Linked DNA regions of Homo sapiens. The protein of the gene in region 1 interacts with the protein of each later gene in a pairwise test. Each region holds a gene or a part of one and is shown on either strand. Other genes may lie near its edges.

The links.
Region 2: the proteins of VRK2 (region 1) and KSR1 interact in binary tests that used the Homo sapiens proteins (3 or more experiments, as listed by UniProt).

What each region holds. Positions count from the first base shown.
Region 1 is NC_000002.12:58,049,342-58,056,931, reverse strand, and holds part of VRK2 (serine/threonine-protein kinase VRK2), read right to left. Parts: intron 1-7,590. UniProt on the Homo sapiens protein: Serine/threonine kinase that regulates several signal transduction pathways.
Region 2 is NC_000017.11:27,451,518-27,459,498, forward strand, and holds the start of KSR1 (kinase suppressor of Ras 1), read left to right. Parts: upstream 1-4,930; 5' UTR 4,931-5,126; coding exon 5,127-5,357; intron 5,358-7,981.

The DNA.
Region 1 (7,590 bases):
CATAAAGCCTACCAAGCCACCATTTGTTTCCACAACCAGTCCTAGCAGCAGACCCTCCTCGCTTCCAGTCTACCAAGTCTAGGTATTCTGCTGTTTGGCTGTTGCTTGCCTTTTCGTTAGACCAACTCTCCTCTACCTCTAGTTGTACATCTCACACTATTACCAAGTACAATAAAAGCATCACATGCCACCACACTACTATTTTGGGAAGCCCTGCAATGACTACCAGTGTACCAATTAACCAGTCCAACCCTGGATATAAAATGTTAGTTCCTCAAACACGTGATGCAGAATGGGAAGATGAGAGGAAGTGGGGTGAGTAGCCACACTAGTTACTCTTCAGAAATAGCCACACTACCTAAGCAGAACAGGTTGGATTAAGGTCTGCACATGAGCCAAAGCTGAGAATTCATTGCCTTTGTTGGCTCATGTCACTTCTTTAATTAATGTCACTTTCTCTGGTTTAATATCAGAGCAAGTGACAAGAGTGCTTCTGGATGAATTGTGTTTTCCGAGGACTGTATGGCACACTCTCCTGCAGTCTGACAGAGGGACGTGCCAGTTTTACTTGGCAGTTACAATGCACCAGCTTTAGTTTTAGTAGTTTAATTTGTGGCAGTTATATGTTTTGAATACGTTGAAGTATTCACAACGGTCTCATGGAATCTGTTCCATAGATAAAGTTTACACAGTGAAAAAGCAAAAGCAACGGCTATAAGGCGATTAGGAAAAGCTTCTCTTGGCCACAGCTGGTCTTACAGGCATTCCTGTAAATTTTAGAGCATTTAGAAGATATGATTAAAGTGATCAGAAGGAAGCGTGCCCTCTTTTAGGGGGTGGGGGAGGGGAGTTCTGTAGTGGGTGTGAGACAATCAGAAGGAAATATGATGTTTAGAGTTCTCAATTTTATGCAAAATCCATTATTCAAGAAGCAAAGTTTATATACATGATAGACATGCAATGAAATAAATGTAAAAATAGAAAGTTTTGTCACTTATGCATTAAGTTGGTTCTAACATTTTGGTTAACTAAGTTTTTATTGATAGAAAACTCAGAAGATTTTCTGCATTGAGGAGAAAGGACTAAACTTTTTCCTTTGGTTTGTTAAAAATCTTTCTGTTTCTGGATGAAATTTTCTGAAGGTCTTTTATTTGGAGTTTTCCCTTCATCTCCTTTATACAATTTTGTGAAGCTTCATCAGCTCATAGTGAAAAGAGCTGCCTGCCACCAAGGAGTTCTTCTAAACTTTGCCTGCCCTTTCTAAATTTAGGGTTCTTTACTGCAGCAGGTTGAAGATCTGGCTTTGATTGCACCTGGCTCTGCTGGAGAACAGAAATATTCATCTCCACTGAATGCATGCTGCTTAAGTGCTGGAGGCACTTGCAGGAGAGTAACTCTCATTGGAAACTTCATTACAATACTTTCTCTTCCCTACACGAAGTAGTAATTCTCATTCACCAAAGACAGGATTTTGCCTGACACAGCCACAGGAGCTGCTGTTTGACTTTCAAAATTAATCAACTTCTAAGTTGGAGTAGAAATGGCATGTCCTTTAACCTTAAGCACAAAAAGCTCTCAACAGACTGTAGTTTTTATATCCCTGGATGGGAATTTGGGCCCCTGATACTTAAACTTGATTCACATACTGGGTTTCTGGCATGCTTTTGCCCATACCCATCTGCTAGCCTGGCACTGTGCCCATTCAGAAGGTGTGATGCCAGTTTCAATAGGGCATAGGTGCCAATCAAAGATGGGTTTGGAGGGGCAGCATGCAGAACGCAGCAAAAGTCACTTCTTCTGCCAGAAGATCCTCCTGTTATCATATAATGCCAATGAAGGGCCACATGCTTCATTGCTTGGGATCACATTGCATCTGTAGATGTTTCTGGCCTTCAATGGATGTCTTTCTACAGAATATTTCCCTCAAGTATTACTTGATCGAAGATGTTAAAGAAAAGATAAATCTACCTGGCTAACAAAAGGCTATGCTTTTAAAAGAAACAAGGGAAGTCCTCAACAATTATCTTGAAATAATTGCTGAGTTTTCTATCTTTTCTCCTAAAATATTTTTTCATGGAGAATACAACAGAGTGTTCAGGAATAACAGTCCATGTGATGGAGCTATCAGGGACAAACATTCTAAAGAAATACTAATTGCAAAATCAAGTATCTAAGTAGTATAAAAACCATAAATGCCTTTAAGTGTAGATGATGAAGAAATTTTCATCATCCAAGTAGCTAATTTCTAATGAGCTCTCTCATTTAGAGCTTTAAAGTTTCTTAATTTTCTTCTCATTTATCTGATATAGATATTCCTGTGTCTTAAAAGAAGAAACACACCTCATACTATTTATTCCTCTTCTTCCTTATCTAAAGAAAAAAACCTAAAACACTTCAGAAGCAGAAGTCTATCCATATTTCATAAGGAAGCCAGAGCTCTCAAAAGCTGAGAATTCTTTTATTGTGTGGCAATAGAGGTGAGCTCATTTCAGGAAGAAGAAATTTCCCCACAGCAATATGTTTCAAATTAAAAAAAAAAAACCTTGACCACTGTAAACAGTTACAAGATAGTAACAGGTCCAGTGGAAGAGACATAATATATAAATGCACTGAAGAATAGAGTATTTTATAAATCTTCCCTTAAGGCAAAAGAATTTGACAGTAAAATGTTGAAAATAAAGAAGAACCATAATATAAAATATGCTTAAAAATGGATATTTAAAAAAATGAAAAAGCCAAGCAAAAGCCAAGTCTTATAAATCTCCCTTTTAATGGAAGGAACCCAAACTTTCTTAAACACCCAGATTTCTTAACTGATAGATAACTGGGTACTGCTATCTCTTTAAAAACTCAAAATTTAAATATAAACAAAATTAAAATACATCTTATAGAGACTTTTATTTCTTGTCTGTAAGTCCAACAAACGTATTAAATTTACAAAACTCCAAGTGATTCCTTCCCTGTTTTGAGTTTATATTACCTATTATTTATACCTTCTGGAGACTAATTTATCATAAACACTATAGTTTCTAGTCCAAATTATTCTCATTTTCACATTTATTCAATTCTTCTCTTCACTCCCACAGTATCATTTGCAAAATTGCCTAATAACAATTGCAGTGGCACCACAACGTTGCATTGTGTCAGATAAGGCTATTTATCTCAAAGCTCTCTATAAACACTACCAAAATAACACTTAATAATGTAATATGTAATGAAGCAATATGTATTCCAACACACTACTTTGTTGCTAGTATTATCACTGGGCTCTTCTAAACTTTATTCTGCATACCTTAAAATCAATCTATTATAGCTCACTATTTATAAAGAAAATAAAAAATTATTTTATGAAGAAGTAAAAACATTCTATGTATGTGGTTTATATTTACTTGTTTTAAATATAAATGTTTCCTTATCAGTAAAATAAATGATTTAAACTTTGGTAATTTCTAAAAACCTATCCGCCAACAAAAGATTCCTTCTATGTTTCTGAAGTACAAAATTAGGCTAATCCGACAACATGATCCAAAAATGTCTGGCAGTCACTTTGATGAAATTTAAACATCTGTCCATGGATAAATGATCTGATTTTCAGGCTTCACCACAGTTAACTTTAGTTATAATAATGTGTTATTCTTTATAAAAGCTTTGAGATAGTATCTTTATAAAAGATATTGCTACTGATGTCCTGTCAATAAAGCACATGCACATTCTTTTAGATGATGTCATGATAGGTGCCTTGTCTCAACTTTCCTGGTGACTAAGGATACTAATCTGCAGTAGATCGAAGAGTGACATCTATAATTATGGAAGAGAACAAAGCAAACTAGCTTGTGTGGGTTAAGTACTCCAATCTCAGTCTCAATTTCTCAGGCAAATAACTGTTGAACATCTATTCTGTGCTTGACACTCCAAAGATGCTAAATGGTCATCACTATGCCACCTTCAAAAAACTAAAACTGCTACAGATAAATCATATCTTTTACTTACATAATCAGCCTTCAAAAGAATGTGGCTAAAGTTTATCCTGTAATTCTGTTATTCTCAATTTTGAATAATTTCTGAAACCAATAGCTTTAATATCTGAGGCAGATTAAATACAGCTTATATGAGAACTTTTCACTACTATAGCAAATTTTAGGGGGAGCTTTTATCAGTTAGTAAAATGTCATAAAGTCTTATGCTGACATTCTCTATGTTCTCAGTTTTACCACATTAGTAGTTAAATCCACCAAAATTCATAGTAGAATAAATAGAAAATCCACCCTTCCAATGGAGTTCTTTGTCATCATCTTAATCCACTATGGCAGCATTTTTTTTTTTTTTTTTTTGAGACAGTCTCACTCCGTCACCTAAGCTAGAATGCAGTGGTGCAATCTTGGCTCACTGCAACCTCCTCCTCCCAGGTTCAAGCAATTCTCATGCCACAGCCTCCTGAGTACTGGGACTACACACACACATTACCACAACCAGCTAATTTTTTGTGTTTTAGTAGAGATGGGGTTTCACCAAGTTGCCCAGGCTGGATGGAGCTCAGGCAATCCACCCGCCTGGGCCTTCCAAAGTGCTAGGATTACTGGCATGAGCCACTGTGCCTGGCCCCACTATGGCACCAGTATTAAGAATGGGAAAGTCTATGGAAATAAATAACTAAATTACATTTATTAAATGCTTACCAAGTTCCTTAAAAAAATCTCATTTAATTCTCCTCACAATTATTATTATCACAATTATGCAGAATAGAAACAACCCAAAGGATTAAGTAACTAGATGAATAAGTGGCTTCATCAGGTCAGGATTCAGGTCAGATATGCCTAATGCCAAAACCTCTGCTATTATTTATGCAATTCTCCCGTAATTTACTTGGTTCTGTGTTATACCCAGCATTATAGTAAAATTCTAACCCTCAGTTTTCTCTCCTTCCTGATATTTAAAAAACTTTTTCATTCATTTGATACTAAAATGACAGCAATTTTTCCCATCCCCTAAACCAGTTTCCTTTCTTCCTTTTTCCTCCCCTTCTCTTTTCATATTCAAAGAAAGAACTTTGACTTTGTTCTTGTATTCAGACTTTTCTTTTCACTCTTTTAGCTATTTCTTATTAATGCTAGAGGCACATTATTTCTCCAAGTCAAGAGTAAATACCAAACTTCTCTGCCCCTTCCCCTTAACTGTAAGCTGCTGATTACCGAAAGGCCCTGGCTACTGATCTCAAAGCTAGAGGACAGTTGTACATGTACAATGAGCTAGACAGAGCAGCTAGTTTCTTCTCAGCCTTAGGCAGTAAACGCTGATCAAGTGTCTGCTGAAAGAGGGTATCTGGAAAGAATCGAAATGAATGTCACTGGACACAAAAGTATTCAGGAAAATTTGAATTTTACTGCTTCTTCTCTTCATTTATATAGAGGAAGTGATGAGAACCATGATAAAATGCAAAAACATGATGTAATTTCATATTGATTTGTTTGTATAGCTTTGAAAATAGTAAAAACTAAGTTTAGTGAAATTAAACTGATTCTATGATTCATTAGCATCACTTTTAATGGAACAGTTACAACATTTGGAACACACATCTTTATTATAAATTCTGAAGTACTGGAGCCTTTTTTCTGAAAATAGCTAAATATTTCTTTAAAGTCCTTCCTCAGTGGTGTGTACTTGCTAATCTTCCTAGGTAGGGTCCAGGTTCTAAAGTTCAGATACTAGAGAATGTTCCCTTACATATTGAACCCTGAAAATATATTGTAAAACAAACAGTATTATTTTGGTAATAAAAAAAAATAAGTAGGCTGGGCACAGTGGCTCACGTCTGTAATCCCAACACTTCGGGAGGCCGAGGTGGGCAGATCACCTGAGGTCAGGAGTTCGAGACCATCCTGGCCAATATGGCAAAACCCCGTTTCTACTAAAAATACAAAAATTAGCCAGGCAGGGTGGCAGGTGCCTGTAGTCCCAGATGCTTGGGAGGTTGAGGCATGAGAATTGCTTGAACCTAGGAGGTGGAGGTTGCAGTGGGCCGAGATTGAGCCACTGCACTCCAGCCTGGGTGACAGAGCGAGACTCTGTCTCAAAAAAAAAAAAAGTAAAAATATGTGACACTGTACTAGACTGAAAGAAGCAAATATTTTTCTGCATTTGAATAGGGACAAGTAAGTCACATGCCTATGCAAGTATATTCCTTTATCATAACAGTAACAATAGTGACTATGTGTACACATAGATACATACAGGTATACAGACATACACTATTTAATCTTAAACATTCACTTGAATTTAAATACATATAATATTTACATTTCAAGAAAATCAAAGAGATAAAATCAACACATCAATACTTTTCTCTAGTTCTTTGAAATTACTCAAATAATACAAATATTAGAAAACCAAAAGTGATAAGCTATGGAATTCAAGGCTATAGCTCAGCCACATCAGAAATAATTTATTCAACACTATATCTCAACCTTGAGTCAAGACAGTATACTAGAGATCTTAACTCTTTGCTGTAAAAGAGAATTCACTAAGTTCAAGTTTCAAACAATACTTATCCTCACATAGTCTTTATTTGCACTATTCTATACAGCAGCCACATGTAGTTACTGAGCATATGAGCCACATGGGCTAACTGGGCTCTTGAGACTAGATACACCTTGGATTTTGAAGACTTTCATTTAAAAAAGTAAAATATTTCATTTGTTTATGTTGAGAGCATATTGAAATAATATTTTTGATATACTAGATTAAATATTATTAAAATAATTTCACCTGTTTCTTTTAACGTATTTTAATGTGGCTCCTAGAAAATTTTAAACTACATATGTAACTTGTATTACATTTCTATTGAACAGTGTTGACTATGTCATTCAATCTAGCACTTAATAACCATAGTATTTTTTCAAGCAATTTCAAGCAAGTTCAAACCCTTTAAATGGGTCCTTTACTTGACTCATACAATTTTTTGTGCTGATCTTGTCTTTCCAACTAGAATAGACACTTAAGTATTTAATAAGCAGATATTTATTGACCAAACTTCATTCATTCATTCATTCAAAACTACAATCTTAATTTTATCAGAAGAGGATCTTTTATATTTCAGGATCCATGAAGCATGTTTTTCTGGAAATATGTGATGAGAACCCAAGATTCCCTCAACGGAGGTATTTTATCAACTCCTTAATCTCCTATAGAAATAGATGTGATCTCAAGTCTCAAGTGAGTACATTTAGGAGAATTTATCCTTGAGGGTATATTTTTAAAAATCACTACTATTTTCCTTATTTTATTAATCAATCTTTTAATGGATATCCCCTCCTCATTCCAACTCAATGATCCATTAAAGTTCAGTGTAATTTTTAAATGCTTAAATGCAATGTAAAGGCCTATCCAGCCCATGGTTCCTTACCTGTACCACAGATCACAGAAAATAATTTTGAGTGTTTATTTTTTCAATTATCCCAAGAATGGCACATCCCTAGGGACCACTCTAGATGCACGAGAGAGAAGTTAATTCATTTCACAGAATAGATGCCTTAAGTTTTATCTATGAATTCTCCAGTAGAGCCCAATTAAGAAATGACTAGACTCTTGTATTGC
Region 2 (7,981 bases), on another chromosome or scaffold:
TCTTTTCCTCCTTCGACATTAAATCCATCTGCTTGTCCTGTTGACTCTGTCTCCAAAACATGTCCTCTATCCCCTCTATTTCCTCCCTCTCCTCCACTCTCACCCGGTTCCTGCTCCCCACCTGGCCTGGGCCACCGCAGCTGTCTCAAAACCAGAGCCATGGCTGTGCCCTTGCCTCCCTACCATTGGCTCTCCATGTGGCAGCCTGAGGGATCTTTAAAACTCTCCACCTGAAAAGAACGTGACTTTCTTAGAGTACCGTGTTTCTAAAAATTTAATCTATTTTTGGGTCATGTGGGAATTTTGCTAAGATGCAGTTTGTGATTCAGTTATCTGGGGTTGGGCTCAAGACTGCGTTTCTAATAAGCTCCCAGGCCATACAGTTGCTGCTGCTCCTGGACCGCATTAGGAGTAACAAAGGCTTGGAGAAAAACCCAAACTTCCTTCCCATGTCCCACTTTATCTGGCCCCTGCATAGCTCTCCCACATCATCTCCAGCCCTTGCTCCTCTCCCTCATCTTGCTATGGCTTCTCTGGCCTTCACTTTGTTCCTGGAGTATGCCAAGCTGCTCCTACCTCAGGGCCTTTGCACATGATGTTCCCACTGCCTGGAGTGCTCCTTTCCTGGAACATTCCACATGGCTTGCTTTTCCTTATTTACATCTTAGTTCAATGGTCAGATAATAATTCTCTGTCCACTTCACCTAGTGAAGTACCTTAGCCACCAGAGACTCTCGGCTATTTGCTTTCTTCTTCTTCTGCGTAGCACTTATGATTCTCAGTTTATTTTGGTAATATATTTGTTGACATTCATTTCCTGTCCTTCCCTTCATGTATGTTCCACAGGGATAAGGACTCGGCTTCCTTCGCTTTGAGCCTACCCCAGAGCCTGGCGCATGCTAAGTGTCCTCTTCATGTTTCTTGGGCCTGTGCATGAAAATGCTCCCACCGCTGCTGTTGGTGTTTGGATGCAGACAAGCTCGGAAAAGCAATGAAGGGACCCGAGACAGAGGAGAGGAAGGAGAGAGTAAGCAAACTTTCTCTACTGAGGTGCCTCAGAAAAAGCCTCAAGAACCTGGAGATGATGCTGAAACCCTGAATCAACACATAATAGATCAATTCATCTAACTAGAAGAGATTCATTCTGGAAGGTGAGGAAGAAAGTAATGCATAGTTCAATGAGTTAAGCATTTGGAACAGTTTCAGTAGACATACAGTAAATATTTATCAAATAAATAAATATGCCGAACCCTTATTTTATGACCATTACTTTGTGTTATATAATCTGTTCATCCTCATAAAACATTATCACCATCTTGCAAATAAGAAGCTGTGCTACCAGATTAGGAGATTTGCCCGAGGTCATATAAGACTCGTCAAAGGTCATACAGCGATTCAGAGACAGAGCTGACTACCCTACTCTCTAAAACAGCTCTATTCGAAGTTGTAAAGGCCATATTCCCTGTCCCCTTCCCTGCAGTGCCATACCACCTGTTACCACTGACACACTGTGCATTTATCTGCTTGTCTGTTTCCTCTCACCACAGCATAAATTCCCTAAGGGTAAGAATCTTCATTTTGTTCACTACCCTTTTCCAGAGCCCAGAACAGGGCCTGCCATGTAAGTGGCACTTCATGAATGCTTACTGAATGTTAAAAGGATGAATGAAGGGATTATTTAAAAATCCTTATTTCGGCCAGGTGCCATGGCTCATGCCTGTAATCCTAGCACTTTTGGGAGAGTGAGGCCAAGAACAGGAGTTTGAGACCAGTCTACATGACACAGCAAGACCCTGTCCCTACAAAAAATTTAAAAATTAGTCAGATGCGGTGGCAGGCACCTGTAGTCCCAGCTACTCAGGAGGCTGAGGCAGGAGGATGGCTTGAGCCCAGGACTTTTGAGGCTGCAGTGAGCTTTCTCGCACCACTGCACTCCAACCTGGGCAACAGAGCAAATCCCTGTCTCTTAAAAACAAAAAACAAAAACAAAAAAGTTTCTCCACCTCTGAGGGGCAGTTCTGTAAACTTGTGGCTGACAGATGACTCAAATCCAGGCAAGAAGGCTGGAGGCCATCTGTGAGGAAGGAAAACTGTGGCCTGCTGAATGCTCTGGATAATCAGAGGGAAGACTGTATCCACAGAGGACAGACTCGCTGCATGGAACCTGGCGGGAGAGTAACCAGGGAGCTGGCATTTGTCCAGTCTCAGGCTCTGACATCACCCCTGTGGTGACATGGGTGGGCATGAATGCCACAAGCTGGCAGTGGCTCTTCTCAGGATGTGGCTTCCCACATAAAGTGGCCCTAGAGGGAGAATGTGATGACCAGGTCCCTGTGGCAATAACAAGTTTGATGTAAGTGCATAAATAGGCACTTACCAGAACATTTCTTGTGAGCCAGGCATGGTAGTTCACGCCTATAATCCCAGCACTTCAGGAGGCTGAAGGGGAAGGATTGCTTGAGCCCGAGAGTTTGAGACCAGCAGCCTGGGCAACGTAGAGAGACTCCATTTCTAAAAAAAAGGAAAAAAAAAAAAAAGTTAACGTTAGCCGGGCATGGTGGCACACTCCTATAGTCCCAGCTACTTGGGAAGCTGGGGTGGGAGGATCGCCTGAGTCTGGGAGGTCGAGGCTGCACTGAGCCATGATCATGCTACTGTACTCCAGCCTGAGTGACAGAGCAAGACCCTGTTTCAAAAAAAAAAAAATCTTTTGTGAATTGTGTTAGAATGAGTGAGTCGTTCAAGCCTGGCAGCTCTGGCTGCTGGACAGAGGCTCTGAACCAGCCAGGTTGGGTTGTGGATAGTCCCTTGAGATAGTTCTCTGCCCACTGACCTTCCTCTGTGCCTAGGCTTCTCAAAGTATAGACTTGCGACTGGGCTCAGACTAACCACATCAGTACCACCTGAGAACCTGATAGAAATGCAGATTCTCCTGCCCTGTCCTCTGATCTACAAAATTAGAAACTATAGAGGTGAGCTCCATGGTTCTGGGAATTAACAAGCCCTCCAAGTGATTCTGATGCATGTTCAAGTTTGAGAACCACAACTAGTTTCCCTTTCATAATAGTTACTACTTTGCAAGGAGTCGGATGGGGTTAAGGTAACAGGTTGAGAAATTCATAATATCGTGCAGGCGGTCTTTTTATAAGTTGAGTGAGGACTGGATCAATGACTCTCAATGGGAAAGGCCAGGGGTTAGGGAGGAACCTCCTTGCATTTGGAAAATCTCGAGGAGGGGTTAATTTGCAAAAACAAGTTTTAAAGTTATAGTTTTGCTTCCTAGACCTGATTTTTAAAAATTTATTATTTTTTTTAGAGACAGGGTCTTGTCACATTGCCCAGGCTGGTCTCGAACTCCTGGCTTTAAGTGATCCTTCCCCCTTGGCCTCTCAAAAGTGCTGGCATTACAGGCATGAGCCACGGTGCCCAGCCCTTAATTTATTTCGAAGGCTGGTGTAATATAAACATTAAAGGAAGGTGTAATACAAACTGCCATCCATTATTGATTGTTTTAGTGTCTACAAGGTTTGGATCCCACCTCCTGTCCAATTCTCATCCTCAAACACAAAAACAAAACCAAAAAAACAACTGTCTATCTACACACACACACACACCCTCGGCTGGCCTGAGAGGTAAAAGAAACATCCCATAGGACCTGCTGAAAGAGCTCCTGAGGCACGCTGGAGCCTTTCTTGTGTGCCATGCACTGTATCTGGCACTATAAAGAGGGTACAATAGCTAGTGGCTTCTGCAATCAAGCAGCTTACAAGAGAAAATTGAGAGGGGAGACATTTTTTCTGGTTGACAGATGTCGAAAGCATGAAGGTGTGGGAGCTTTGATCAGAGACTTGGTTTTTCAGTTTTGCCAGATAATAGAACGCATGGGGTGAACTAATGGGAGAGGAGGGTGAACAGATGGGCAAGGCTTGATTGCTGGGTTAGGAGGCACAGAAATGCACAGAGGACAAAGGACTACCAGTCCTTGGCAGTACTGTACTGCTCCATGGCCACTACCTGGGTCCAGGGCCACATTCAGATCTGAGGTTAGATAGTAAGAATTGCTAACATTTATCCAGCGACCACATGTGCCAGTAATCAATCTAGGTGCTGTACATGTATTAACTGATTCTTCATAGGAACCCTATTAAAGAGTTATTTGATGAGGAGAGTCGGGCATTCACTGGAAATCGAACGTGCCCAAAGTCTCACCCTAGACCGTGGTGGAGTCAGAATTTGAATCCTGGCCACTTGCTCCGAAGCCACCGACAATTCAGTGTGCTGTCCCCCGTGTCTGGGCTGGCTTGGTGGGCTGGGAATGGCGGGGGAATGGGACACTTATTTTGGCAGGTAAATGTGGTTCAGAAGAAAGCTCTTCGTCTTTCTCCAAGCCTGAGCAATCGTTTTGGCGCAGGCAGTCCAGAGTAGAGCGCTTTGTGAGCCAGCTACAGAAGTGCTGTAAGCCCCTTCCCACTAGATGGCAGCCCCTAAACCCACATACAAATCCTGGAACCTCCCTGGTCCCCATCTTCCAGGGCTGGGCTGCAGCTGAGGAACTGCGGGACGCACACCCGCCGGGCGTCCAGGGGGCGCCGCCCCATCCGGGGGTCGCGGGAAGCTCCTAGGCCGGGTGGGGGACGGAGGCGGACGGGGAGACGCTGCTCCCCCGACTCTCGGCGCCTGGGGGAGGAGCTGGCGCGGAGCAGCTCCACCCGGGGCTCCCGGTTGGGGCCGGCCCTCACCGCCTGCCTCGCCGCGGCCGCCGGGAGGGGAGGGGAGAGGAGGGCAGGGAGGGCGGCGCGGGCGCGGTCCGGGGCCCCGAGGGCGGAGGCCGGCGGCAGGTGCGCGGCGTGGACTACAAGTCCCAGCATGCCCGGCCGCCCTGACCCAGCCCCCGCCGCCGCTTAAAGGCTCCGGGAGCCGCAGCCGTCGGGTCGCCGCGGCTTTCGCTTTGCTGCCGCGGCTGGGAGGGTGGAAGCGGCAGACTCAGCGGCCGGCTCTACCGGCGTCCCGGCTCGGGCAGCGCCGAGGGGCGCTCCTGGTCCAGCTCTCCTGGCTCGGGGGTTCCTTGCCGAGGCGCCCGCGCCCCGGGCTCCCAGCCTCGGCCGCCGCGGCCCCGATGCCGAGGCATGGATAGAGCAGCGCTGCGCGCGGCGGCGATGGGAGAGAAGAAGGAGGGCGGTGGCGGGGGGGATGCGGCGGCCGCGGAGGGAGGCGCAGGGGCCGCGGCCAGCCGGGCGCTGCAGCAGTGCGGGCAGCTCCAGAAGCTCATCGACATCTCCATCGGCAGCCTGCGCGGGCTGCGCACCAAGTGCGCTGTGTCCAACGACCTCACCCAGCAGGAGATACGGACCCTGGAGGTAAGTGGGTCGGGGACCAGGCTGGGCTCGAGGAGCGGGCCCGGACACCTCCCTCCGGGCCCCAGTACTCCTGGCCGAGTTGCATCCTTGAGCCCGCGTCGCCCCCCTTGGAGGCTTCCCCTCCCTCCTGCACTCGCTGATGCGGCAGCCGGAGGACCCGGGACCAGCCCTCATCTTGGGCAGGATTTGTGGGGCGGGTGCGTCGTGGGAACTGGGATGGAGGCTCGAGGGGCCCGTGCGGGGTGGGCTGCGCGCGGACATCCCCTTTCCCCCCTTCTCCGCCCCCACCCCATTTCCAGTTTGCGGGGCCGCAGGACTCGTTGTCCCACCGAGTCACAAGCTGGACTTTTCCCCGTGTGACTGAGCCGAGCACCCGTGGGCCAGGGTGACGGAGGAGGTTCCCCTGAAGCGTGATCGCAGGCCTGCCGTCCCCTGTTCCCCTCACGCCCCAGACGCCGTCCTGTCCCTTCCTTTCCTCTCCTCTCAGGTCTTGTCTGCCGCCTTTTCAAAAAGTGTTGCTGAAACTGCATTTTTGTTATTCAGGCGTTTGGTGCTTTCCTTTCACGTTGCCACGGAGGCTCGCTGCTTAAAATGTATTAATAATTACCCGCTGACTCCCCCTGCTTCCCCCCAAAGATTGGATTTAGGCTTAGGAAGGATTATGCTGGGAAGCAAGCCTTTGGTGGGAAGATGAAACTGTTTAAAGGGTTCTGATGGAGACAGTCTGGAGTGTAAAGAAGAAATAAGATATGCGGGCCTTCCTCTCTCAAATTATAGCTGGGGAAGTATCTGAAGGATTTGGAAAAACCAGCCCGAGGGTTGTTGGGGCACCCTGTCCATACACAAATGAGGGCAACTAGTGGATTCTGAATGTGATTTTGGCCAGGGACGGGGCGGTGAAACGTCAGACCAGTTAATAGCTGCCCCGTCTTGAAGAAGGAACCTCTCACCATCTTGCCCTGCCACATCTGGCCTCCTGCAGGTCTGGGGATGTTTTGTTTTATTAGATCCTCAATTTCTCCTCCCCCAAACCCTCCCCCCGCCCCTTATTGCTAATTGCCTCTGCCAGCTGTCATAAGGCCCTCTGTGATCGCGGTAATTATTACAAGACCAATCCTTCCTCCAGGCATGCCACAAAGCCGAATCCTTGTTTGATTCCAAATGCTCGGGGGTGACTCTCCCTCAGTTTTATTTTCTTAAAAGCTATAAAACCACAGGACATTGGAAGAATACAGTCAGTGCTGGGTATTATTATTTTTTATTACAGTTGGCTAAAGCTGTACTGACCAAGGCTTTGCTTAAAAAACAAACAAAACCCCCTACAACTGGCCTTTCTGCATGCATGCTGCAGTTTTCCAAGTATTGAGAGAAACTGATTTTTTGAACACAGCTGAGTGTGTTTGCTCAGCAAAGTTCAGTTTTTAAGCTGACAACAATAGGGGGCCTGTGAGGCTCAGTTCCGGGAGGAGGGGTCGCTGTCTGGCAGAGTGTGCGTGGTTGGACTTCGGTGTTGCTGGGCTTGGAGAATGCTCTCTGTGTTGGCCTCTGTGGGATTGTCCCCACGTTGCTCTGAAGTGCTCCTGGCTTCCAGAGTGTGTATATAGGAGAACCACTTGCTGTGCATTCTCTGGAATGGCCTTTTGTCCTACCCTAACTTCCGGAGTCCCTCATTTTGATGGCAGTGTGGCGTTCATGACACCCCAGAGCATCCAGCTATTTAAGTGTTGGAGCTGGTTTATTCAGTGGCTTCCCTCCTGAGTGTTTGTTTAGACGATCATCCCTGGCAGCAGAGAACCCATCCAAAGGCCCACAGGGGATCTGCAGCTCCCTGTTCTTCCCACCGTGATGTGGATTCGGGTTCACTCCACTTCCTGAAAAGGCAGGGCCTGGGTTGTTTTGGGGGATGGGAATTTAGACCCCTGGAGTGAGTTCCATGGGGCTGCCACCAGCTAGTTTAGATGAGTCACTTCATCCCGGAGGCCTCAGCCTCCTCACCTGCAAAACAAGGAGGCTGGAGTGGATCTCTGAGGGCTCTGGAAGCTCGAAATTCTCTAGGTTAGAGAAGGAGACTTGGTTGGGTGAAATCAAATGTTTGTGATTGTTTTTATACTACCCTGGTTTAAGAATAACCCTCTTTAAGAATGGTTCTAAAATCCAGATTTACTGAACCCATAACATAGGGGTTAAGTTTATTAGAAGAATCTTTGCCATAGGAGCAGCGTGGTGAATAGGAAGCCCCATGGCTTTCATACTGGGCCTGGGTTCTGTCTGTGTGACCTTAGGCAAGTCCCATGACTTCTGAATCTCAAGCTCTCCTGTCTGTAAAATAGGAACGAGACTGCTCACACCTGCAGCATTTTGTCTGTCAGTCCGTGCTGATACTACGAAAAGAGTCTGCCTGGCAGCTGCCCCTAGTGAGGGTCCAGTAGCATTTATGGCACAGGCCACCACTAGGGAAACTTAACCCCTACTGGACCCTTGCTAGGGAAACTTAACCCCCTACTTTATGGGTTCAGTAAATCTGGATTTTAGGGAAAGGTACTTCTGCAGCTGCCTCTCATTTCATACAGGTGGGTGACACAAGCCAGGAAACAATCTCAGCAAGCTGGGTGGGACCGTCCACC